Linked DNA regions of Homo sapiens. The protein of the gene in region 4 interacts with the protein of the main gene of each other region in a biochemical or structural test. Each region holds a gene or a part of one and is shown on either strand. Other genes may lie near its edges.

The links.
Region 1: the proteins of CRYAB (region 4) and CS form a complex in vitro, tested with the Homo sapiens proteins (3 studies listed by BioGRID).
Region 2: of the proteins of CRYAB (region 4) and CCND1, one has a biochemical effect on the other in vitro, tested with the Homo sapiens proteins (2 studies listed by BioGRID, with this or other methods).
Region 3: the proteins of CRYAB (region 4) and SNCA form a complex in vitro, tested with the Homo sapiens proteins (4 studies listed by BioGRID, with this or other methods).

What each region holds. Positions count from the first base shown.
Region 1 is NC_000012.12:56,271,199-56,276,358, reverse strand, and holds the end of CS (citrate synthase, mitochondrial precursor), read left to right. Parts: intron 1-163; coding exon 164-363; intron 364-1,227; coding exon 1,228-1,357; intron 1,358-1,480; coding exon 1,481-1,582; intron 1,583-2,562; coding exon 2,563-2,772; intron 2,773-3,104; coding exon 3,105-3,275; 3' UTR 3,276-4,660; downstream 4,661-5,160. UniProt on the Homo sapiens protein: Key enzyme of the Krebs tricarboxylic acid cycle which catalyzes the synthesis of citrate from acetyl coenzyme A and oxaloacetate.
Region 2 is NC_000011.10:69,644,144-69,651,171, reverse strand, and holds part of CCND1 (G1/S-specific cyclin-D1), read right to left. Parts: intron 3,179-7,028; coding exon 3,030-3,178; intron 55-3,029; coding exon 1-54. UniProt on the Homo sapiens protein: Regulatory component of the cyclin D1-CDK4 (DC) complex that phosphorylates and inhibits members of the retinoblastoma (RB) protein family including RB1 and regulates the cell-cycle during G(1)/S transition.
Region 3 is NC_000004.12:89,820,143-89,827,170, reverse strand, and holds part of SNCA (alpha-synuclein), read left to right. Parts: intron 1-4,782; coding exon 4,783-4,925; intron 4,926-7,028. UniProt on the Homo sapiens protein: Neuronal protein that plays several roles in synaptic activity such as regulation of synaptic vesicle trafficking and subsequent neurotransmitter release.
Region 4 is NC_000011.10:111,908,747-111,916,603, forward strand, and holds the start of CRYAB (alpha-crystallin B chain), read right to left. Parts: upstream 3,025-7,857; 5' UTR 2,979-3,024; coding exon 2,778-2,978; intron 2,008-2,777; exon of another isoform or gene 1,704-2,007; coding exon 1,581-1,703; intron 222-1,580; coding exon 18-221; 3' UTR 1-17. Other genes in the region: HSPB2 (heat shock protein beta-2), read left to right, coding at 4,084-4,177, 4,695-5,149. UniProt on the Homo sapiens protein: May contribute to the transparency and refractive index of the lens. Has chaperone-like activity, preventing aggregation of various proteins under a wide range of stress conditions.

The DNA.
Region 1 (5,160 bases), on a different chromosome or scaffold from region 4:
TGTTATTCTCTACTTTCAAACATACTCAATATATAACAACCCATCATATAACTAACCATCAACCCAAATAGCCCCAATTCATGGAGGACAGACGATATCCCTGCCTAATTCTTCTTTGCTGATAATTCCTTTTTTTTTCTCCATCTTGCTCCTCTTCTGTCAGTTGATTTATGAAGACTCTATGGATCTAATCGCAAAGCTACCTTGTGTTGCAGCAAAGATCTACCGAAATCTCTACAGAGAAGGCAGCGGTATTGGGGCCATTGACTCTAACCTGGACTGGTCTCACAATTTCACCAACATGTTAGGCTATACTGATCATCAGTTCACTGAGCTCACGCGCCTGTACCTCACCATCCACAGGTAAGCTAGACCCAGCAACCACAGCCACTAGGTGCCTCAATTGGTGGGAAATTTTTTTAAAAGCTCCTTTATGTTCTCATCTTCTGAGAACAGATGATAGGCAGCAAGAAGACAGAAACGTGGCATAAAGGATGATCCAAGGCAAGAAAGGGGTCTAGTAAGCAAGGTCAGGAGGCCTAAAGAAATTACTGTAACCATGCTAAGAACAAGATGGTGCTTCTGGCTGGGAAAAGGTACTAGCTGCTCACATTAGATGGTCCTTCAGCTTTCCAGGAGCTCGCTCTTTGGGGCCATTGCTATTAAAGCTAGGTTGGAGTCATGGAGCAGAGCATACAGGCATCATCAACCAGTAACCTCTCCAGCTCTGTGGATGAGTGAACAAAAGCTGGTAATGAGATTAGGATGCTTTTTTTTTTTTTTTTTTTTAGATGGAGTCTTGCTCTGTCGCCAGGTTGGAGTGCAATGGCGCAATCTTGGCTCACTGCAACCTGCACCTCCAGGTTCAAGTGATTCTGCTGCCTCAGCCTCCCAAGTAGCTAGGACTACAGATGTGTGCCACCATGCCCAGCTAATTTTTGTATTTTTAGCAGAGACGGGGTTTCACCATGTTGGCCAGGATGGTCTTGATCTCTTGACCTCATGATCCACCCGCCTTGGCCTCCCAAAGTGCTAGGATTATAGGCGTGAGCCACTGTGCCTGGCCAAGATTAGGATGTCTTTTACAAGAGTTTAGGTATAACTGACTGGCTATAGGCTGGCATGAGCCCATAACTAGGCTAGTAAGTGGCAAATAAGAGAACAGCAAAGTTTCCATAATCTGCCCCTTCTTTCTTCCCTTGGCTCTCCCTTCTTACTTCCCCACAGTGACCATGAGGGTGGCAATGTAAGTGCCCATACCAGCCATTTGGTGGGCAGTGCCCTTTCCGACCCTTACCTGTCCTTTGCAGCAGCCATGAACGGGCTGGCAGGGCCTCTCCATGGACTGGCAAATCAGGTAAGACTATTCTTTTTATTTTCCTGCTACATGTTTTCCTTACCCCATGCTTTGTTTCTGATCTTGGCATTCTCTTCTGGCATATGTATTAACATTCCCTTTTTCCCCAAACCTTACCCATAGGAAGTGCTTGTCTGGCTAACACAGCTGCAGAAGGAAGTTGGCAAAGATGTGTCAGATGAGAAGTTACGAGACTACATCTGGAACACACTCAACTCAGGACGGGTAAGCAGAGATGCTTAACGACTAGGAAAGAAACCAAGACACAAGTTCTGCAATTTGGAAGAATTAAGAAAAGAATGAAAGAGGTCCCTAAATTAGAGATTTTTTTTTCTTCATTTATCTACCTTGAAGAATTTAGAAAAGAATTTCTAGGTGGGCACAATGGCATGCACCTGTAGTCCCACCTACTTGGGAGGCTGAGGCAAGAGGATTGCTTGAGGCCAGGAGTTTAAGGCTGCAGTGTGCTAAGATCACTCCTGTGAATAGCCACTACACTCCAGCCAGGACAACACAGCAAGACCCCATTCTCTAAAAAACAGTTTTAAATAGGTTGAGTGTGGTGGCTCACGCTTATAATCTTAGCACTTTGGGAGTCCAGGGTGGATGGATCTCGTGAGCCCAGGAGTTTGAGACCAGCCTGAGCAACACAGACCCTATCTTTTTTTTTTTTTTTTTTTTAAAGACAGTCTTGCTCTTGTTGCCCAGGCTAGAATGCAGTGGCGCAACCTCAGTTCACTGCAACCTCCGCCTCTCGGGTTCAAGTGATTCTCCTGCCTCATCCTCTCGAGTAGCTGGGATTACAGGCATGCGCCACCATGCCCGGCTAATTTTGTATTTTTAGTAGAGACGGGGTTTCTCCGAGTTGGTCAGTTGGTCAGGCTAGTCTAGGACTCCCAACCTCAGGTGATCTGCCCACCTCAGCCTCCCAAAGTGCTGGGATTACAGGCATGAGCCACCGCACACGGCCAGACCCCATCTTTACCAAAAAAAAAAAAAAAAAAGCCAGATGTGTTGGTGTGCACCTGTGGTCCCAGCTACTCTGGAGGCTGAAGTGGGAGAATTGCCTGAGCCTGGGAGGTCGAGGCTGCCGTGAGATGTGATCATGCCACTGCACTCCAGCCTGGGTGACAGAGTGAGATCCTGTCTCGAAAAATAAAAGAATTTCTACTGAGAATACTATCTTTTTTCCTCACTCTTTACAGGTTGTTCCAGGCTATGGCCATGCAGTACTAAGGAAGACTGATCCGCGATATACCTGTCAGCGAGAGTTTGCTCTGAAACACCTGCCTAATGACCCCATGTTTAAGTTGGTTGCTCAGCTGTACAAGATTGTGCCCAATGTCCTCTTAGAGCAGGGTAAAGCCAAGAATCCTTGGCCCAATGTAGATGCTCACAGTGGGGTGCTGCTCCAGGTAAGTCCTCCTTTCCCTCTTTTCCCTCTAATTTGTACCAAACCCTATTGTTATCTGCCATGCACAAAGTCAATTAACTCCTAGTCAGAGCAGGGACTTCCCTCACAGAGCATTTTGATAAAGTTGACTATGAGAGGGTTGGGGGTTGGGGTTGCTCTGTTTTCAGAATCCCAATTGCTATACTTTTCTCAGTGTCATTTCTATTTAAGGTTGACTGGGCTAAGTCCTTGGAGAAAAATGGAAAATTTAGCTTTTAAGGTTTCTATCACCTAGGACTTGTACATGCCACTGCCTCTGCCTTAAATGAAATATTTTTCTCTTCTACCTTACAGTATTATGGCATGACGGAGATGAATTACTACACGGTCCTGTTTGGGGTGTCACGAGCATTGGGTGTACTGGCACAGCTCATCTGGAGCCGAGCCTTAGGCTTCCCTCTAGAAAGGCCCAAGTCCATGAGCACAGAGGGTCTGATGAAGTTTGTGGACTCTAAGTCAGGGTAAAACTGGAGACTGGGTGAAAGTGACTACCAGAAAGTGAGGAAGCCTAAATAAAAAGTATACTTTTGTTTCAGGGGGCCTTTAAAGACTTAAGATTAAATTATATCTGAGGCACTGATAATATGTTTGAGGTTAAAATATAAATTAAGACTTTAAAAGATGAAAAATGGTCCCTTCTTCCCTAATCAGCTCCCTTCCCCTGCCTGGTATGAGTTGCCCATCATACGCATGGTCCTGGAGGATGACCAGGACTAATGCATGTGGTATGAGTAGGTTTGGCCCCCTCACTATCTCTAGAGTGAGAATCTGGCTCCTGTTTCCATGGGTCAAAGCCGGTTGCAGAGAATCTGTAGTCACTTTGGAGCTTTAGCTTCTCTGCCAAGCCCTCAATAAGCCAGCAAACCAGGACTCTGCCCCTTCTGTTTCCATAGGAATCATGTTGGATAGTCAGCTGTACCAAGCCCCTTGGCCCTCTCCCATGCACACAAACACCTCCTAGCAAGACCTGTTGGTTAGCTGGACATGCTTTGGCAATTTTTTTATACTACCAAGTGACCATAAAGGCATGGCATTTGTTGTGACTGGCACCCAATGTTTGATTTTTTTTTTAAAACTATCCAATTAAAATTAAGGTCTGGGAGTGTTCTGTTTCCCATTACTTTAATACTCACCTCCTCCCAGACTTTCTACACCTGTTGCACCTCAGGCAGAGGATGTTCTGGACCTCCCCCTCTTGGTCCCTACTAGAGACCTCTCAACAGATCTGTGGGCCCAGTCATTGGGTTTTATCAGTGCTTAATGTGAACTAAGTTTTTTACTTCCACAGAATACAAGCCACTACCTTCTGACCTCCCCACCCCCCACCAACCCCCATCTTTTAATATGCTGTGGGGCATAGAACTCCGGAATGACCAGCATGATATTTTCAGAGTCTTGTCCCCGGGGTATTAGCACCTCTTTTTGAACAGGGAATTGATTCAAGATTGGACATGGTCTCCTCTGATTATCAGGTACTGGGGCTGAGGGCATTAAAAATAGTAAGCCTCCCTCCTCGTCCCCTGCCTCAAGAAATTGCCTCCTTATTTATCAACATCTTTTTCCTCCCTTTCCCTGAGAGCTCACAGTACAATGTTTCAGAAGCCCCATTTGCACAGGTTTTCAGCAACTCAGAATGCTCTACTTCTTTTTCTTTGAGAAAGGATTAAGATACACTCCTGCTGTGCCCCCATCTTTCCTCCAAACTCCTGCCTGTGTTTGTGTGGATACCCAGTCCCAGAACCACACTGTTGAGTTGGACACACTGTAAACCCCTGGGTAACTGTCAAGTCATGATGGAGACTTCAGGTTGTTCTGTATAAAATGCAAAATAAATGTTTTTATTAACAATGCTTGAGCCTATTATTAAATAAGGCCTGGAAGAACCTTTATTATGAGGTAAGGAATCTGGCTAGCAAGATCCTGAACTTAGTGGGTTATAAGTAATCTGTATCCATTTATCTTTAGGCAGGTTTGGCTTTCTTTTACCTTAACCAGAGGAAAGCCTCCCTGAGAAATTTCCAGAGGAGATTTCTGTCCTTCCTCAAGGTTAGGAAGTCCTTGATGTTTAGCCCCTAACCTTGCTAATTTTGTTGTAAGGTAACATACTCAAGGGCTATAGCTGAGATTCTCAATTGCTTATGTGACTAATCCAAGAACTGGTCTAGCCCACTGAGAGAAAGGAACAAACTACCAAGGACGAATGGGCTAGTACTGCTACCTCAGGACCAGAGCCACTAGAGGGCTCTGGTACTTCTTGGAGTGCCTGCTCTTTATAGCTTCCCTGAAGGAGGTCCCAAAAATAACAAGAGGTGGTCCTGAGGGCATCACATATATGGGAGGTCCAAGACCA
Region 2 (7,028 bases), about 42 Mb from region 4:
CAGGCTTGACTCCAGCAGGGCTTCGATCTGCTCCTGGCAGGCCCGGAGGCAGTCCTGAGAGAGAGAGGGTGGGGAGAGGTGGGAAGAGGGGGTCCTTAGAAGGGGCCTGCAGCGAGGGCCCCTTCCCAGGTGCCATGACCCGGAAGCCTTTATAAGAGCAAGACTAAGCCAAAAACTGTCCCTCGGCCCATGCTGCCTCCTCTGAACCTGAGCGAGATGTGGGAGCTGCCATCACCTGTCAGGACACTCAGGACCAAATGCCTCCACCTCCCACCTGGTCTCTGGAGCCACAAGACACCAGATGCTTGCCCGCCCACCCTGCACACCCCCTGCCCGTCCCCATGTCCAACAGCGCCTTCACCGCCTGTTCCCACTGGCCGTGCCAGCTCCCTGGGGAATTCAGTGCCATCTGATCTGGACAGGAGGCCCTTTGAACCCTGCCTTTTCAGCCTTTTCAGACTTAACCTCTCCATGTGGCAGCCCTTGAGGTGAACCTGGCCTTCCATGATCAATGGCTGTCGAAGCCTTGGGCCGTGCATGACTGAGGATGAATGCTGGGTGGCCAGGGGGACCTGGACCATTGATCCCTCCCCTCCATCCTCTCCCGCTCAGGCCTGTGCCCCGGGGCCAGCCATCAGCCTGGCACAGCATGCATCCACCCACTGCGGCCACTGAGGTGCTCGCCCTCGGGTGGAGTGCGACGGACGCTCCTGGAAGTCCTGCACCTCCACCCTCTGGGGCTCCAGACTCCCTTGGCAGCGTCCACACCACACTGTCAGTGGGAAAGAGCAGCCGTGAAATCTGGAACGCCACGCCCAGCCAGGGGCCTCTCCTAGGCTCCACCACGGGCAAGTCCCACGCAGCCTGAAGTGGCTGCTTACTGCCCGGGGGCTTCTGGATGGAGAACCGGCTCCATGTGTTGGGGCTGTGTGTGTCCCAACTGCCAGGAAGCCACGCTAGGGCTTCAAGCCAAGTCTCTAGGCAGCCCAGGAAACAGACCTTCCACAAGGAGCAGGGCTGGGCCACAGCCCCACCACGTGCCGCACAGGTGCCACTTAACTCCCAACCAGAAGGGGCTGGACAAAGGCATAGCACGACAGGCGATGACCCAGGCCAGAACGACTTTTAGGTGGACCACTGAGGTCACGACATTTTAGCGCCTGTACCTTTATAGGGAGGGCTTTCCTCTCCCGCCCCTCAGATAAATTCTCATCATGGCAAATGAAGCTGGCCGGGCTGGCTGCACAAACAGTCCCACTGTACAGATGGGGAAACTGAGGCCAGAGGCCTGGGGTGAGATACAAGACTCCTGACGTTCAACCTAAAACACCAGCCAGCTTCAATTCTCAGCCCCAGGGGCCTGGCAGCTCCATCCAGGGATTCTTCACCTGCGGCCCGTCCCTCGCCCATGACCCACTCCAGGGTCACACATGCAGCTAGACTCCAGGACCTTCCTTCATTCCTCTGGCCCCACAGCTGCCTGCAAGGCTACCCCGGTGGACAAAGCTGTTCTCCCACAGCCAGAAGCTCCAAAAAGGCAGCACGCTCCTCCGCGAAAAGTCACTGGTGTGTGGCACTGCGCACCCGATTTGCACAGATGGACATTCCACCCACCAAAGAAAATTCTAGAACACGCCCTAGAAAATGCAGGGGCCTCTGCTGTGGACGGTTTTTCTGAGTCTGGGCTCAGCTACGTTGGTCACTAGCTGATCAGGCAGAGTGGACTCCGCCTCGGGTAACTTCACCCCGTGTGTCTGTCAGCTGTGAGACGTGTGCCTCCAATCTAGTTAAGATGGTCTCTACTCAAATAAGGGCCAGCGCCCAACTTCCCACAACTGCCCGAAGACAGCAACATCCCAGGGCAGTCACCCCTGGCGGGGAAGCGGTTTTCACTCAGGGCGTGGAGTTCGAAATGAAAAGTGCAGACGCGAGTTTCATTTTGATGGAGGGGCTTTCTCTTTGCTGGGCTTCTGGAGGCCTCGATGGTGTTTCTGAGCCATTTTCCTGAGAGAGCTGCGGGCTGCTGGCCTCCACCCTACAGCGGGTGAGGACACCTCACCACCCCCAAAGGATAACACGGGGCAGGGTGCAAGGGAGGCCATGGCCGAGAACACAGAAGGGAGGCCCCTGCCAACTTCGGTGTCCCACGGCAAAAAAGCTTCTTCCTCTTCCGAGACACACATGGGCTGGGCAGCCGCTACTCCCAGTGTCCCCGGGACAGAGGCACCACTAGGCAGGGGACAGGCAGGTGGACCCTAGATAGCATCTGCTGAGACCCGTGCGGAGTCCCCGGGAGGCTCGAGGGCAGACCACCAAGAGGCGGCCCAGGCCAGAGCCAAAACGGGTCTTGCAGGCCCACCCAGCCCCAAGCTGGGGTCAGGCGGTCACTCCCTCACACACCGCGGGGCCGGCGGCTGACCCGGCCACCTCTCTGGTCTAATTTGGTAAATGCCACAAACCCTTTTGATTGTCATTTTAATTCTTTCTTTAAGAAAAGACTCGGGAATAAAACAATGGCATTTTTAAGAAGAAAGACACAGTCATCCCAGGGTTTAACAGCAGCAGCCTCTCAAAGAGGCCGTAAACAACAAGGCTGTCTCTATCCGCCCGTTGTCCGGTGTCTCGGACCTCACAGGAGCCCTTTTCAAGCATCTATTTATTGGCCACGCACATTGTGGCCCAAACAAAGCTCGCCTGGGCCTAACCCCACACACCATCACCACACAGACCATTGGCTGGGGCCGCCTGGGGCCTCCGTCCCGGACGCTTCGCCCAGAAACTCTACGGCTCCTGGAAGCCCCAGGGGACGTGAGAAGGCTGTGAGGACCTCCCAGCCAGTCAGTAAGTTCTAGGAGCAGTGGAAGAAGCCGGTGCCCTGTCAGTCTGTGGCCTGGGGTCCGAGGGGCCCAGCCCCAGCCCCAACCTTGTCACCCTTGGGGGCCTTGGCACCAGCCTCGGCATTTCCGTGGCACTAGGTGTCTCCCCCTGTAAGCCCCGGCAAGGCTGCCTGGGACATCACCCTCACTTACCGGGTCACACTTGATCACTCTGGAGAGGAAGCGTGTGAGGCGGTAGTAGGACAGGAAGTTGTTGGGGCTCCTCAGGTTCAGGCCTTGCACTGCGGCCACCACGCTCCCCGCTGCCACCATGGAGGGCGGATTGGAAATGAACTTCACATCTGAGGCAGAAGGAGAGAGGGAAGGAGGCTGTGAGCAGGGGACCCTCTCAGGGCCCCCGTGATCCGGGCATCCCTGTGTGCTGGCTCTGAGCAAGCGGCCCGGCCTGAAGGGAAGCACTCGGTATCTGAGGCTCCACATCCAGGCCCTCCTCAGCCTCCAGCCATCCCTGGGCACTCGGAGAGCAAGAGCCTGGCCCACGGACCCTCCTGGAACGTCAGCCCCACTGTTGACTCAAACATAACCAAGGAAAGAGAAAGCCACGGGAAGACACAGGACAGGTGATGGGGACATCACTGCCTTCTCATCCTTTTAGCATCTTGAGCCTTGTGAATGTTATCACGTATTCACAAAAACAAAATTAGATGACGCAAATATGAGGACGTAGAGATGTCGCTTCTATGACCCTAACCCTCACCCCAAGTACCTGCCACCCCCCAGCAGCAGGGATTGCAGACAAGTCATATTCTGAAGGGACATCGCATGGCTGAAGCCTAGGCCTCCACCCGGGCCAGGCCACGGGGCTGCAGGGTACTGATGAAGCCATTCCGTGTCCCTTGAGGGGTAAGCCCTGGCCGGCAGCCTTCAGGGCGGCTGTGGTGTGGCTGCGGCTCAGGCCCTGGCGCCAGGAGAGCCCGGCTTGGCTCACTCGGGAAGGAAGAGCTCTTCCAGCAACCCATGCCCCTTACCATGGGACCATGACTGTCACAGTGACCTTCAGAGCACAGACCAAGTACACCCCAACTCCACCCGGGCCCTCTACTCACAACTCTCCTATTTCTGGCCGATGACAAAAACACTTTTCTGGGCCGTCTGATGTAGCCCAACAATTCCAGTGACTTCCCAAGTAAGGGAAGAGGTGTGGGGTTCCTAGCACCAGTCACCATGGGACACCCCTGGAGGACTGGGCCGGGAGCCGGGCCCCAGGAGGGAGCAGCTTTCCCAAGAGGGCACCAGTGCCCTCACCTGGGGCTTCCTGGGGACTGTCCCGCACATCTGGGCCCACTTCCAAGAGGGACACCAATCTAGGGCGGCCCATCAGCCTTTGTGGTCTGCACAAAACTCCCTCTGGTCACTGCCAGATACTGGGCTCATCCGCCTGCCAGGCTGCAGTAGTGGGCGTCTCGGGGCCTCTGTGACTGACCTCCTAGACAAACAGCAGACTGGCTCTTTCCACAGAGAGCCCTGCCACCAATTACGTCCTGGTTTGTGGCGGGGAATGCCGGCCTCCCCTCCTCAGGGCAGTCATGCGCCTACCGTGGACAGGTGGGCCAGTGTGGGATGTGCCTCTTGGCCTGGCCCCCACCCCAGCGGAGCCTGGGGGCAGCCTTTTGTCACACCCACGAGGAATTCTGCACAGGAACCAGGGGCCCTGGGCTGGGAGCCGGACGTCGGCAGGGATGAGTGTGGCATCTTTGTCGGCCCCATCGCCTCATCTCGCGCCACTGAGCGCCCGGGAACAAGGGGGGTCGGGGGAGCTGAATGGGAGCCGACCCAGGCACAAAGGGAGAGGGGCCCCCACGGGCCGCCAGGGGTGTGGCGGCCCATCCGAGACTTCATCCCGAGAGAATAAACAACTTCGGCCTTGTTAAAGAGAGGGCCGCCGGCGAGGGGCCGGGAAGAAAGGCAGCCACCCTGAAGGGGAGACAAAGCCGGCTGCTGGGCGCCGTAACAACTTAGAAAAAGAAATCCTTAACGAGCCGAGCCACCTCTTTTCCCCTTTAAATGGGAGCAGTTCCACCCAGTCTGAGAGCCGGGAGCCATGAATGAAAACCTTCTCATTGAGGCAAATCAGAACCGCACACAGAAACCGCTTCTGCAGGGAGCGACAGGTTCTAGCTGGCTCCGCACCTTGTGCACCCCCCCGTCTCCAGGGGCACACACAGCGTGGAGTCACTGGGGCCACGTTGTTTCAGAAGCTCGTGCCCCCACCCCAGTGTGTGGTGCTGTCTGTGCTTAGATTAGGAGCCACCCAGAATTAGACACCAAAGCTCCAGGATTTGACCCTATCCGCTGCCTGGTTGTAAAGGGAAGTGACAGCTGTCCCGGAAGCTCCTTGGCACTGGACGTTCCTCACCTGGCCTCCCACGGAGCCAAGGGCGCACCTGCCCTGAAACCCCCATGCGTGAGTGTATGCAGCATGTGCACACCTGCTGGGGACCTGGGGCCAGGAATGCCTAGTGCAGGGAGAACACCCAGCATCACCTTTAAATGTAACCTTTGCCACGTGGAGGGCAAAAACACCTTCCTAGACTCTTTCCCACGCCTCCACCTCCTTCAACCTGTTTCTGACTTTAAGCAGCCGTAAGTCACTCTTGTCTCCACAGATGTCCAGCAGGAACAAGGCACTGGCTGCTCAGTTACGTTCCATGGGGTGGCCACGGGTCAGGACCCGGAGCACTTTGCAGGGGTGGGTCCCCTGGTCTCCTGCCCCTCCCTCGGGACCCACCCTGGAGTGGACTCCACAGTCACTGAGAGCACGTGCACAGCTGGGTCCCCAAGTGTCCCTCCTCCTTCACCCACCGCTGGGGGCGCCTTCGCAGACAAAGGGTGTGCAGTAGTGGGAAGGACGAGAATCTGCACCTGCCCACTGCCTCCCACTAGCACCCAGGGGTCCTGGGAGGGGAGCTCCACTGCTGGAGCCACCCTGTAGGGAGGCTGTGCAAGAACCACGCCCCACGTTCTCTCCAGGAAACTTTGCATTTCTCTGAAGCCACTTTCAGCTCCATAAAAGGCTGTCTGGAGTCTCCGGAGGCCTCTCTCCTCTGAGGAGCACCAGCCAGAGAATGCCTCCCTGTCTGCCGCATGCCCCCCCACCCCAGACCCATCCAGACTGGTCGACATCCTTGGCATCTTCATCTGCCCACCTTGGGGACTCGCTTGGAAACGTGGGGGAGGGGTTCATGCCCCAAGCAGGTGGAGGAGGTGGGGGAGGCCTCACGCCTAAACCAGAACCCATTCTGGAATACCGGCTGCGGGCTACCGGTGTCAGAAGGGAGCTCTGAAGTAGGCTTGGGGGGCTCTGCCCTCTGGGGAGGGGAGAAGATGCTACTGCCTCTTTGATGCCCCGTGGGCCTTGTGGCCTAGGTCACCCAGAGTGAGCCCCCAAACAGATGTGACAACTGAGGCTTGACCAAAGGTGGGCCACAGCAGAGCTGGGTGGGATGGGGCCATGCTCCCCCATGAAGGTAACCAGGCCTCCTGGGCCAGGGAAGGAGGCGGTCACAGGGGGGTCAGAGGCAGGGCTGGGGACAGCAGGAGGCGGCACCCTGTGTATGTGCGAGTCTGTCCCCACTGGGTTCTGGGGCCAAGGCCATGTCAGGGAGGGGCCTCTGGGGCCATGCCAGGGGAAGTGAGGACTGGGTGCTTCTGCTGCCCACGGTGGCGGCCCAAGCTGAGAGTGCTCTGAAGCGCCCCCTCAGGGCTCAGCTGAGCCCGGCTGGCTGCCGGCACCCCTGGCAGGGCCTCAGGCAGCCGAGCTCCTCTGCTGGACACCCCTGCACTCGGCTGCCCAGAGCACGTGGTGCAGGCAGGCCGACAGCTCTCCCCGCCCCTGGAGGCGCCTCTGGCAGGTGGCCCAGCCTGGGAGAGGCCAGGAGGGGGCCTCTGCAGCTCAGGCTCCTTAAGGACACAAGAAGGGCTGGAGGTGGGTGGAGAAAGGAGGCGGCCCTGTGGCCAAGGTAAACCCCTTTCAGCATGGAGTGGCCACAGGCTGCCTGGCCTGAAGGACGAGGCCAGAGTAACGGGACACAGGCAGGCTGAGCCGTCCACACCAATGCCCAAGGTACTGCATGGTGGCCGTGAGGGAGCAAATCTCCCTCCATCCAGCGCGACAAACAATCCAGGGCCTCT
Region 3 (7,028 bases), on a different chromosome or scaffold from region 4:
TACCAGCTGTGTGTTTTTTGCAAGATTCTTCACCTCTGTGTGATTTAGCTTCCTCATCTATAAAATAATTCAGTGAATTAATGTACACAAAACATCTGGAAAACAAAAGCAAACAATATGTATTTTATAAGTGTTACTTATAGTTTTATAGTGAACTTTCTTGTGCAACATTTTTACAACTAGTGGAGAAAAATATTTCTTTAAATGAATACTTTTGATTTAAAAATCAGAGTGTAAAAATAAAACAGACTCCTTTGAAACTAGTTCTGTTAGAAGTTAATTGTGCACCTTTAATGGGCTCTGTTGCAATCCAACAGAGAAGTAGTTAAGTAAGTGGACTATGATGCCTTCTAGGGACCTCCTATAAATATGATATTGTGAAGCATGATTATAATAAGAACTAGATAACAGACAGGTGGAGACTCCACTATCTGAAGACGGTCAACCTAGATGAATGGTGTTCCATTTAGTAGTTGAGGAAGAACCCATGAGGTTTAGAAAGCAGACAAGCATGTGGCAAGTTCTGGAGTCAGTGGTAAAAATTAAAGAACCCAACTATTACTGTCACCTGATGATCTAATGGAGACTGTGGAGATGGGCTGCATTTTTTTAGTCTTTTCCAGAATGCCAAAATGTAAACACATATCTGTGTGTGTGTGTGTGTGTGTGTGTGTGTGCGTGTGTGTGAGAGAGAGAGAGAGACTGAAGTTTGTACAATTAGACATTTTATAAAATGTTTTCTGAAGGACAGTGGCTCACAATCTTAAGTTTCTAACATTGTACAATGTTGGGAGACTTTGTATACTTTATTTTCTCTTTAGCGTATTAAGGAATCTGAGATGTCCTACAGTAAAGAAATTTGCATTACATAGTTAAAATCAGGGTTATTCAAACTTTTTGATTATTGAAAACTTTCTTCATTAGTTACTAGGGTTGAATGAAACTAGTGTTCCACAGAAAACTATGGGAAATGTTGCTAGGCAGTAAGGACATGGTGATTTCAGCATGTGCAATATTTACAGCGATTGCACCCATGGACCACCCTGGCAGTAGTGAAATAACCAAAAATGCTGTCATAACTAGTATGGCTATGAGAAACACATTGGGATAAATCGGCTGCTATCATAATCATTCCTCTCCCACATCAGATAAATGAATTAACTTTTTGAATAGGGTTATTTAATATAAAGTGCTTAAGTCTAATTATGAGAAGAAATAAGATAATTACACTTCAATGGTTAAAGAGAGGGAGAATAATTTGCATATTATGCCTGATGTAAAATGTTTATTATGGGTACATATTAAGTGCTAACTAATTGTTAATTGTTCTTGCTACAAGTCTTAATGCAGGGAAACAAGAAATTATTACATAGTACCTAATATTATCTTCTAATATTAAAGAAACAATTTCCCCTAAATTCATCCCATTAGCTTTTTTTTTTTCGGTGGGGCAGGGGAGAAATACAGACTTCAGTAAACTTGGGCTGGGAACTTTCTACCTACAAAGTTCAAATAAAATAAATTATCCTAGTTAGATAATATCAATGAAAAATCCACCAACTTAAATCCTGGCTGTTTGATCTCAGGAAATTATTTCAGTTATCAACTTAATGCATCATATTATAGAAATATATGAAAATGTGTTTAATTAAACTTACTGAATGATATGTTTTTTCAGGTACTTTAAAAATAAACTATGATATAAAGTTACCTATTTTTCATGCAAGTATAGTATAAAGAAATTTCTAACACTGGAGATTTTCTGAAGGTTTTGATTCTTATAAATTTATTACATCATAATGAACAAAACTAATTTTCAACATATTATGATTTAAATTTCCTTAGTAAATTGTTTCAAATTTATTTTCTTTAAATCCATATTTACATATGTATATTTAAATATACATATTTACTTGTATAACAATTCAAAACCATATATTAATTTTATAATTTTGTTTAATGTCAAAGGTTAGATTTGGCTATATCTATTCTAAAAGTTGGTATCACATTTCCTTTTTGGAATTTTATTTTTAAAGTAGCTAAAGTCAAATATAAACCTATTATTTATATTAATGCAGACATTAGAGGTAGACACTAAATTCATTTTAGTATATTCTAAATTATTTATTATCTACTATGAAATAATATAAAGAAAAATAAAGCAGAATCCCTGATTTCAAAGAACTCAATTGCCGAAAAACAGTTACCATTTATTAGACCCAAAATGTACTAATATGAGTGTGTCTCTTTTCCTTTTGTTTTGTCACCCGTCATTTGGAATGTCAGTGAGTAGAGAGATAGTGTGAAAGGCCCTCAAGGGGAAAAATAGAGGTTAAAGGTCAGCAGAGACCCTACTAGAGAAATCAGTTCTACAGAAATGTTTTTAAATGTGTCGATTATTGCTACATGTACACTCTGTCATTTTGTAATGTAGCCATTTTATTTATGATTATAATAATAAAACAACAAAATTATAATAATGTGTAGAGTACATTTTACTGTGCAGTGTATTGCATTAAAACTAGATTAAAATTTATACATATATAAAAGGCTATCTAGATATTATAAAATTTATGGCTGGATCTGTAAAAAATTCAAAACCTATTTTTAATCTCGCTTTGAGATTTTATAACAAGAAAATGTTCGTTTCAAGCAAAATTTTCAATTCACGTCCTTGAAAAGGAAAAAAATGACAACTTGAAACACATAATTGACTATTTTTAAAGGATCAACATTTCAGAAATGTTTTAAAACATAAGATTTTCAGTACAGCTTTTCGCTGGCATTTAAATCGAACTTTGAATTGTAAATAGCTCTTGCTCTTAAGGAGACATCAGCCATATCCTTAGAAGTGGCACGGAGTTGTTAGGTAGTTGTACAAAATTCTAGCCTAAAAGACAAATAGGGAGCAACACTACTGTGGACCGTTTCTGGTCTTGGGCTGTGTGGCTATGTCAGGCTTGCCCACATTGCCTGTACTAAGGAGAAAGCCTCTTGTCCTTACAGACCCCCTTAGCTTACATAGTCTATTTGAAAACAAATTGCTTTGTCCACACCATTTAAATATTGGCTTCAGGCCAGGCGCGGTGGCTCACGCCTGTTATCCCAGCACTTTGGGAGGCTGAGGCGGGCAGATCACGAGGTCAGGAGATCGAGACCATCCTGGCTAACACGGTGAAACCCTGTCTCTACTAAAAATATAAAAAAATTAGCCGGGTGTGGTGGCGCGCACCTGTAGTCCCAGCTGCTGGGGAGGCTGAGGCAGGAGAATGGCCTGAACCCGGGAGTCGGAGTTTGCAGTGAGCCGACATCGTGCCACTGCACTCCAGCCTGGGTGACAGAGCAAGACTCCGTCTCAAAATAAATAAATAAATAAATAAATAAGTAAATATTGGCTTCTTCAACTGGTGAGATGAAACCTATACAATAGTCATGTGAATAGCACTAAACAGCTGACATGGTGTAACTCCTCTCAGACTGAGGCTTATCTGGGGAGTACAAAGCATGTCAAGAAAATGTGCCTTCATTTCCTTAGATGAGTGTCCCCATCCTCCACTCTCCTCCACTGTTCTCCTCTCTGCTTCTATGATATCAACTTTTCTTTTTCTTTAGATTCCACATGAGTGAGATCATGTGGTTGTTTGCCTTTCTGTTTCTGGCTTATTTAACTGAACAAGAAAGTTTTTGACATGAAATTAAACTTCTGCTTGTAAACTCAATTCAAACTATTTACACTGTCTTCTCAAAAATGTTAACTTATTTTAATAAATCTACTGAATGACCGTATCTCATTTTGTTTTATGAAAAGAAATTGTAAGGGTGCTCAATAGCCTCTTCATTTTCATACTGTCTAGCTCCTGTGCTCCTATTAAAATTACTGCAAATTTAGCTTTTTAAGAACCCTTTGTTTCACTACCTGAAGTTCTATAAAAAGATCCAAGTTCCTTCACAACCGTTTCTTATGCTGTTATTCGTACATATGTGATAATACCACGTCTGAACACGTAGATAATAAGTAGGGGCTGGGTGCGGTGGATCATGCCTATAATCCTAGCACTTTGGGAGGCTAAGGCGGGTGGATCACCTGAGGTTAGGAGTTCGAGACCGGCCTGGCCAACATGATGAAACCCTGTTTCTACTAAAAATACAAATAATAATAATAATAATAATTAGCCAGGTGTGGTTGTGGGCACCTGTAATCCCAGCTACTCGGGAGACTGAGGCAGGAGAATAGCTTGAACTCAGGAGGCGGAGGTTGCTGTGAGCTGAGATTGTGCCATTGCATTCCAGCCTGAACAACAAGAATGAAACTCCATCTCAAATAAATAAATAAATAGAAGTATGTATTGTGTTGCTTAGAAGGTGTGGTGGAAATTAACTTGCTGAGTGAGATCAAAGGATTGGCACTGAATTGAAATAAAGAAATATTCATGCTGAGTCTGGTTCAAATATAACTGCACCTGTAAGAATTGCTTTCTGTAAACTTTCCATAGTATAAACCAAATCCAAATCACTCATGGCTTTACATTCCTGATCGTTAAACTTGAAGCACTTTTTAATACTGCATGACTTTAGCCAAAATATCTTAGCCAAGATTCAATGTTTGGTTGAACCACACTCACTTGGACATCTTGGTGGCTTTTGTTTCTTCTGACCACTCAGTTATCTATGGCATGTGTAGATACAGGTGTATGGAAGCCGATGGCTAGTGGAAGTGGAATGATTTTAAGTCACTGTTATTCTACCACCCTTTAATCTGTTGTTGCTCTTTATTTGTACCAGTGGCTGAGAAGACCAAAGAGCAAGTGACAAATGTTGGAGGAGCAGTGGTGACGGGTGTGACAGCAGTAGCCCAGAAGACAGTGGAGGGAGCAGGGAGCATTGCAGCAGCCACTGGCTTTGTCAAAAAGGACCAGTTGGGCAAGGTATGGCTGTGTACGTTTTGTGTTACATTTATAAGCTGGTGAGATTACGGTTCATTTTCATGTGAGGCCTGGAGGCAGGAGCAAGATACTTACTGTGGGGAACGGCTACCTGACCCTCCCCTTGTGAAAAAGTGCTACCTTTATATTGGTCTTGCTTGTTTCAGGCATTAACCCAGATAAATGCCATGCAAATTTTATAATTATTATGATTGTTTCAATTTCTGGAAGAAAGTTAATGAAACAAAAAATGTAGTAAAATGCCAAAGGAACAGTGACATTTCAGAAAGAATGAGGGCTTTCATGTTAATTGTAAGTCTTGGAATTTCTCTTCCTTGGAGTAACAAATCCCTTTGTGCCTAATTTCCTAATTTCCAAAATAAAGTTCTTTTACTTATTTCTTTATAGTGACATCATCTCTTATTAAATGGCATATCTGCATATTACATAACAGTTCATTGCCAAATACATATTTGTGGGAAATGAGAGACTTAAAATACATACCAACCAGAGATATAGTTTTGAGGTAGATTTTAAAATTCTGAGAAGAATTTTGACTGAATTTTTTTGACAAACATGGGACACGAATAAGATTATACCAAAGATATTATAACTTTCATTTTAAATATGGAACTAATACAGTATGAGGTGTCAACAACGTTGAAGTTTCACAAACATCACCACTACAACAGCAAAATAATTTTTGCTTTTTCCCTGCCACAATGACCTCCTTGCTATTTCTTGAATAAATCAAGCATACCCTTGCCCTGACACGTTCTTGGGGAGGCCTGCCCTAATCTATATAAAATTGGAGCCATTCTTCTCACCTCTGGTATTCCCAGTCTCCCTACTTTTTTTCCTTCTTTCTTTCTTTTTCTTTTTCTTTCTTTCTTTCCTTCTTTCTCTCTTTCCTTTCTTTCTTTTCCCTTCCTTCCTTCCTTTCTCCCTTCCTTCCTTCCTCCCTCTCTCCCTCCCTTCCTTCCTCCCTTTCTTTCTTTCTCTTTTTTCTTTCTTGCTTCCTTCCTTCCTTCTTTCCTTTTCTTTCTTTTTCCTTTCTTTGCCAAAGTGTTATTCACCTTTAAATATAATACATAATGTGCTTACTTTAATGTATGATTTTTATTTTATTTCTCCCTTCTAGAATGTAGGCACCATGAGAGTGAAATATATTTATTTTGTTCATTGATATTTCACAAGTGTCTGGGAGAGTTTCCAACTTACAGTAGACAATTAACAAACATTTATTAAATTAAGGAGGGAAGGAAGTGAGTAAGCACAACAACTTTCATTTCTGGGTCTTTTATAATCATATGCTTAGTATAAGAACAGTGCTATTCAGCTATCCAAAAGTTACAATCAAAATGATTTTGGATGAATATCTTGAAAATTGTGAGAAAGAAGTTTTATTTGCTGGCAAACTATTCTGGGTTGTTTCCACTTCATGTAATCCTAAGTAGCAGCCTTACCTTGATAGCCCATTAAAACTCTGATAATAAAAAGGCAGAACAAAAATATCTGTGATATATTTAGATTTACTACATGTACTTACATGTCTAGTGTCTGGTGCAATGGATGCTAATGATGGCAAATCCTTACTGGGCTTCTAGTGAAGTTCTTCAGCTAATGTTTGAATGCATGGTTGGTCATGGTGGTACCCCTTTGTACAAAATATGCTTTTCAAATAATCTTATTAGGGATAATAATTATATTAATTCCTGGTTTCCATCTAAAATTTTAATTCTATTTATAGCTTCGTAAGATTTCACAAGTTAAGAGGGACCTCAGATTAAATTAGTACACAGGCAATTAATCAGTTTTGTGTCTCCGACCCTTTTCACGGGCTAATAGAAGCTATAGACCCTCTTAGCTTCAGAAAAATGCGCACTCACATACGCACATCAAAGAGCTTAATGGGAAGTCCATTGACAGACCCTCTGTTCAGATCAATCTTCTGATTGTAGAGATGAGGAAACAGAAATCTACAGAGGAAGTGGGTAGTCCAAGATTGCACAGTCATTTGGAATAGACTGGACACCAGTAGTACTTTTCCAGCCACTATATCACTTCCCCAAGCACTTCCTCAAAACTTACCTTCCTTTGGGTCTT
Region 4 (7,857 bases):
AATTCAAGAAAGGGCATCTATTTCTTGGGGGCTGCGGTGACAGCAGGCTTCTCTTCACGGGTGATGGGAATGGTGCGCTCAGGGCCAGAGACCTGTTTCCTTGGTCCATTCACAGTGAGGACCCCATCAGATGACAGGGATGAAGTAATGGTGAGAGGGTCTACATCAGCTGGGATCCGGTATTTCCTGTGGAACTCCCTGGAGATGAAACCATGTTCATCCTAACCCAAAAGAATGAGGAAAGAGGCAGAGAGATAAGAACAGGAACTATTATCACCTGCCCAGAACTCAGGCATCCTGATTTCCCCTTAGGTGAGACCAAATGCCATGACAACATAGGAAAAATAAATAGAGCTTCGTTTCAGGGTTGCAGCTAAGATGAAATTGCCTAGGTAGTCACTCCTACCAGTGAGAATCTGAGAAGTCTGAAACAGTCCAACACTTCATTGTTTTTCAAACCCTGAGGCATAGATATGTTTAGGGGTATTTCCCAAAGGTTTAGATCAATGTTGGCTGGGCCTACAGAATTTGGAATCTCATTTAGAATCTGAGTCCCTGAGGAAGCCCTGAAATTGTCCTGACTCTTCAGGAATGTCCCAGAAGGTTCCAGAACAATAGGACTGCTGCTGAAATTAAAAAAAAAAAAAAATGACTCCATCCAAGGAGACTATGACCCAAACCTAAATCATATAAGCAAAATTGAAACAGCCTGAGGACATTACTGAGGACAAACTGTACTGGTTGACGCACAGGTTCTGAGCTATCGTTAAATGGTGAGAAGCAATTTTAAAGCCCTCTTATAAAGTCATAACAAGCTGTTCCATTTGTCAGAACTCCCCCAAAGAGTAGATGACCTTAACCCGTATGCCTGCTGACTCTCAAGCATGTAGCCAAACAGGCTCTCGTTAACTGATTACCACATGGGCTGTAGGGGATTAAAGACTGAGCACAGCTCTGAAATTTAGACAAACCAAGTAGTTCAGCATTAAGATGGGCTAAAGAAGAGACACGGATTCTTGCACAGCTAAAAGAGAAGTCACAACTCAAGTGCTTTTAGGGTACCTGTAGTTAATGTAATTATGCAAAGCAACTAGGTGTCTGACAGCCCTATACCTAATCAGTGGTTCTCAACCTTGACTGTAGATTAGAATTACCTTAAAAATTGCTGATGCCTGGGTCCCACCCTTAAAAATGCTGATTTAATTGGTCTGGAGTAGTGCTCGCTTCGGCAGCACATATGCTAATTGGTCTGGAGTATGCCCGAGCATTAGGTTTTTTGAAAGTTCCCCTGGTGATTCTAATGTGGCCCAGATTCAGAACCACTGGCTTAAATGGGGCATCAGCATCCCATCATCCCATCTAAGGCGATCAAATCAAAGGCCACATCTCTGGCCATAATAGTAACAACAGCAATATGTCTATCCTAACTTAGTCTTCTAGACATTGATTTGTAACCCCTGATCCCGACTGTTATGGCTTGGGACTGGAATGTAGCCAGCCTCCAAAGCTGATAGCACTACCTGGACTATTACAGTATGCACTGAATGAATGAGCAGAAAACAAAAAAACAAGCTACATACCTGGCGCTCTTCATGTTTTCCATGCACCTCAATCACATCTCCCAACACCTTAACTTTGAGTTCCTCTGGGGAGAAGTGCTTCACATCCAGGTTGACAGAGAACCTGTCCTTCTCCAGGCGCATCTAGAAATAGCAAGGTAAGGGAATGGGATGGGAGAAAGAGGGCAAAAATACTGATTACACAGGTGCTGTCTTATTCTGCAGAGCTGCTTTCTGTCCGGGTAATTCATCCTTCTCTTCTCTGCTTAAAAAATCTCCTTTTTAAATAAACATAGCTGTCTGCTTCAGGGAGCCACCACAGTGATACCTAAGGCTCATGGTGATCAGACCCAAACTTTATTTACAGGGACAGAGAAGAAGACAGATCACCCAGGGGACCAGTCGCAAGGATGGGTGCAAGCCTGGCATCTGCTGCCTCTCTGACTCCAATGCCTGGCTTTGTGGTTTGTCTGTGAGACAAAGGCCTCTTCTTCTGGCTCAGGTCTCTTTGCCAGTTTTCCACCCACCCAATCTGGAATGTTCTGCTGGTCCTGCTTGTCCTTCCAAAGCCCTTGCCCACTCAGCTCCTGTTTACTCACACTTGAATATTTTTAAACCAGAGTGTTATCTGTGACAGCTCTGTCAACCTTATTTGTTCACCCTGTTCTTCCACCCTCTTAGGACAAATGGGCGTCCCTATATTGTTTCCTCGTAGGGCTTGATTGGACCCAGGCCAGCGCCCTGTCGTAGCCCTGAGAAACCCAGAAAATCATAGAAGAGGGAATAGAAAGGCAGAAAATACCCATGGGGATGAACAGCTCAGGATGAGGCAGGGCTCTCTCCTGGCTCTGAAACCTGAGATGGTAAAATCGGTCAAGAGTCCAAGGTGTTGGAAGAGATAAGCAAAGGAGTTTGAAGGCAGCTCTTTCCCTGCAGATTGTCATGAACCAAACCAGAAAGGGGTATCCTGTAGAGAAGTTAGGGGACGGAGGATAAACTTGACAGTGCATGAAAAAATGTAATAAATGGGATACAGAGGACTATCAAATAGAAACAGGTGATGGGGGAGGAAGGCACTAGCAACCTCCTCATTTTTCTTCACATTTGGACACACATGTGCCTAAAATGGTTTAGGCAGGGTAGGAAAGGAAAATGGATGGAGAAGTTTCCAGGAGGTTCCAGTAAGGACTCTCCCGTCCTAGCTGTGGGGAGACTCACCTCTGAGAGTCCAGTGTCAAACCAGCTGGGTGCCCGCAGGAAGGAGGGTGGCCGAAGGTAGAAGGGACTCAGGGAAGTAGACGTCGGGAAAAGATCAGACTCCAACAGGTGCTCTCCGAAGAACTGGTCAAAGAGGCGGCTGGGGGAGTGGAAAGGAAAGAAGGGGCGGCGGATCCAGGGGTGGTGGATGGCGATGTCCATGGTGGCTAGGTGAGTGTGAGGGGTCAGCTGGCTGGTCAGCTCCTTCAGCTGCAGCTACAGCCAGCCCCTTATATATGCAGTCTTGTGAAGCTTCTGGAATGGTGATGTCAGGGGTTTTATTATCCTAGCTCACCAGCAGTTCATGGAGACTTGTGATCCGGGATTTGGCAATGTGACACATACCCAGTACTCACTGAGCTAAGAAAAGAGAGACACAAACACGTCTGAGCCGGCCAGTGACTTGTCATGGTCTTGTTTCACTAGCTTTCTGTCCACACCCAATGGCACCCACCCCCACCCCTGTTCTCTGAAGCTGGTACAGAGTCAGGAATCCCAAGCAGGCACGCGGGGTGGGGGGAGGATGGGAGCCGGCGTAGTGTGCCCCTCCTCCTCCTTTCCAGTCCTGAATGCCAGGGGAATCAGGCCAGCAACTATCTTGGGCCTGGGCAGGGACTGGAATCTTCCTAGGCTGAGCCCCAGGGACATTAACTCTTTGTGAGTCCTTGGAAGAGAGCAGTGATGGTCAACATGTCAGCACCAGCCATCTGCCTCGTGCCCTGGGTTGACCTGGGTTTAGGAGAGGATCCCACATCTGGGCAGAAAGACCCCACCCCCTGAAAAAAGAGCAAACAGATTTCTTGCATCTTTCGTTCTATGTGGCTCTCAGAACATTAAATCCAGGAGTGCTTTAGGAATTGGGTGCACAGTGCCTGCCACCGAAGAGGAGAAAATGAGGTGTGGAAACGTGCAAACCGTTTGTGAGGGTCTCAGCGAGGCCTCTTCATGCCCCAGGCACCACCAGCTCCCCCTCCCCAGCTCGTTCCCAGCCAGGACCCTCAGCTGTCCTCTCAGGCCCCCTGCGACAGCTGAAGAGTGTGCGGGGGAGGGGACTAGGGGTCCGGGCGGCGCTGGTCACACCCTCGTTGCTCTCACTCAGGGCCCCCACTCCCAGCCCCTCCCCCCCCAAGAGGCTCGGCACTATTTTGGGTGGTGTCGACCCCGCCCCCACCTCCTATCGAGCCCTGGCTCTCCGGGCAGCTGGAGGGGTCGCGCTGCGCCTGTTGGGGCTGCACCTCGGACCAGGGCTTCTGCTGCATCTGCAGCCATGTCGGGCCGCTCAGTGCCACATGCCCACCCGGCCACCGCCGAGTACGAATTTGCCAACCCGAGCCGCCTGGGTGAGCAGCGCTTCGGAGAAGGTATGGCACAGACACCACCCCCTTGCCCCCCACCCCCACCCCCTGAAATTCTGGGCTGACCTCCCAACGTTGCTGGCCTCCACCCCACTCTGGGCTTAACTGATCTCCTGGGACCAGCCACCCCCCACCCCAGACTACCCCTCATCCCCTCCAAGCAGAGATCTTTCCCATTCCTGCTGACCTCAAGACACACTTGGTGCTTGCAGTGCTGATACCTGCTCTTTGCCGGCCTGGGTGTGCCTCCTTGTCCCCCTTCTATCCACCCAGGCCGTTTGGTGCCTCCTCCTCCTCCCCCTCCTCCTCCTTCTCCTCCTCCTCCTCCCTTTCCTTTCCGTTCTCTTTCCCCTCTTCCGAGCTGCCTTCTCCTCCTAGCTACAGTGTGGCCTCCCTCCCGTTCCCTACTCCTCCTGACTCCCCTCTTGCTCTTCCCAATCCCTCCTCTCCAGATTTCCCATTTCGCCCCTGTGCCAGCCTCATCCTCCCTCATCCTGCCTCTTGCCTTCTCTCTGCCCTTTAGGCCTCCTGCCAGAAGAGATCCTGACCCCCACACTCTACCATGGCTACTATGTCCGGCCTCGGGCCGCCCCAGCTGGGGAGGGCAGCAGGGCAGGGGCCTCCGAGCTTAGGCTCAGTGAGGGCAAGTTCCAGGCATTTCTGGATGTGAGCCACTTTACCCCAGACGAGGTGACTGTGAGGACTGTGGATAACCTGCTGGAGGTGTCTGCCCGGCACCCCCAGCGCCTGGACCGCCACGGCTTCGTGTCCCGAGAGTTCTGCCGCACCTATGTCCTGCCTGCTGATGTCGACCCCTGGCGAGTCCGAGCTGCTCTCTCCCATGATGGCATCTTAAACCTGGAAGCACCTCGGGGTGGCCGACATTTGGACACAGAGGTCAATGAGGTCTACATCTCCCTGCTCCCTGCGCCTCCTGATCCAGAGGAAGAGGAGGAGGCAGCCATAGTTGAGCCCTGATTGCCACAGACCCAGCACCCAGCAAATCCCTCTCTACCTCCCAAGGTGATATGGGCAGCTGCCCACCACTCCAGAGGTAGCAGCATCCTTGGGGGAAGGGAAAGGTGCATGGTCCACAATGTATGGTTTGGTCCCATGGGACATGTCATAGCCTTGGTTTAGTTTTGGGTGGAGCTGAATAAACCCAAATCTCAGGGCCTTGTTTGTACTGCTCCCTATTCTGTGGCCGGGAAGCTGGGATGGGGAGGGAGGGAGGAGGTCACAGCCAGCTAGACAAAAAGCTCCTCAGTTTGATGTGCCCAACGTCATAGGACCCTGAGCTCGCACTTGGATGCTGAGATCACACCCGGAAGCTGACTCTGGCTCCAGATCAAATTCCTAGCCATAATTTTCTCACAATGCAACAAAAGAGAGAGTGATCCTGGGAGGGAAAAGGGATATGCCATCCAAACAGCCCAGAGGGCACTGTCTGAGCTGGTGATTAGAGACACAAAAACAAGGGTCTCCAGACTGTCTGGCCCTTTTTGGGTAGGGGCTGGGAAAATGGTTTTTGGCTGGTGAGAGTTGCCTAAAGTCCTGGAGTGAATACTTTGTTTTCATGTACTAAGGTCTGTCCACTTAAATGGTCACTGATTTTGAGAGCCTGAGTATGCATACACAGGGCACAGACACAAAGCCTCTCCAATTATCACGGAACCCCATTACCTTCCCATCCTCTGGGGGTACGGTGTATTCAGGAAAGCCTGAGGTCTGTCCCCTCAGTTATTCTCTGCAATCAAGAGAACATCCAGCTACATGATTTGGGGGAAGTGTCCAAAAGACCTTCCTGCCTCCAAATACATATTTCATTAGGCTGTGGTAGATACCTACAATTCTTCCATTAAAGCAGTTGTTTCTTGGCTGGGTGCAGCAGCTCACACCTGTAATCCCAGTACTTTGGGAGGCCGAGGCAGGAGGATCACTTGAGCCCAAGAGTAAGAGACCAGCCTGGGCAATAGAGTGCAACCTTGTCTCTACAAAAAAATAAAAATTAGCCAGGCATGGTGGTGCATGCCTGTAGTCCCAGCTACTTGGGAGGCTGAGGTGGGAGGATGAGCTAGGGAGGTTGAAGCTGCAGTGAGCTGAGATTGCGCCACTGCACTCCAGCCTGGGTGACAGAGTGAGACCCTGCCTCAAAAAAATTAAATTGAATTGAATTAAATTAAGTGGTTGTTTCTTAACTTTTGGGAGTTATAGACCCTTCTGAAAATCTGACAAAAGCTATAGCTGCTCTTACCAGAAAAATACATATGCTCCCAAATTTGGCAATACAATTTGAATAGGTTCCCACAACTCTTAAGACCCATTCACATACCCCCCTTAGGGATCTGTGGACCTCCAGGATAACAGAACTCACTTGAGGAATTCGACTTTTGGTTAAAAGATTGCTGTCTATTAAAAATGAAAGCATGCCCCAGAGAAATAACATTTGACATATTTAACTGTTCATTCATTCATTCAGTAAATATTTATCAAACCTCATGTAATACACCTTGGGGGATATACATTGTAAATATAAATTATAAAAACTATTAGCTTTTATTGTCAACTTTCCAGAATCTAGTTGAGAAGAAAAATAATAAGAAAAGGATTCTACTTAGACTTCAACCAAAATAGCTTCACATTGATATGTTTTGTAACTGAGCTTTATTTAAAGGAAAGGGTTTCCTAGCTATAAGAAATTTGAAAACTTCTGATTTAGTCCAAATCCCCTCTCCATTCAAATGCTTTTAAAGTTATTAATCAACTTATTCGGGGACATTCTGAATAACAGACAACTTAGAACTTCTCACGGTAGTCGTTTCCATGTTCTTTCTTTTCTTTTTTAGACAGGGTCTTGTTCTGTTGCTCAGGATGGAGTGCAGTGGCATGATCATGGCTCACTGCAGCCTCAACCTCCCTTGCTCAAGCAATCCTCCTGCCTCAGCCTCCTGAGTAGCTGGGACTACAGGTGTGTGCCACCACGCCTGGCTAATTTTTTACTTTTTCTGGAGATGAGGTCTCGCCTTGTTGTCCAGGCTGGTCTTGAACTCCTGGACTCAAGCAATCCTCTATCCTTGGTCTGCCACAGTACTGGGATTACAGGTGTGAGCCTCTGTACCTGGCCTTCCATTTTCTTTTTGGTCTTAACTGACTTAACCGTTATAAATTCCTCCTTTTGTTGAATCAAAATCTGCATTTCAGTAACTTCTCTGGAAAACAAACACAATGGTTTTTTCACTGAAAATCCTTCTGATATTTAAAGATAACCATCCTGTCTTCCTGAGGCTTCCCTTTCCCAGCTAAACATGCCTAGTTCTTTTTTTTTTTTTTAAGACAAAGTCTCTCTCTGTCACCGAGGCTGGGTGTACAGTGGTGTCATCTCCCCTCACTGCAACCTCCTCCTCCTGGGCTCAAGCAATCCTCCCACCTCAACCTCCTGAGTAACTGAGGCTACAGGCATGCGCCACAACACCTGGCTAATTTTTTGTAGAGACTGGGTTTCGCCATGTTGTCCAGGCTAGTCTTGAACTTCTGGCCTCAAGCAATCTGCCCACCTCGGCCTCCCAACACATTGGGGTTACAGGCGTGAGCCACCACACCCAGCCATGCCTTGTTCTTTCAACCATATCATACAGCACTTTCCACATCACATATTACCCAGATAACTTTATTTTGAACATACTGCC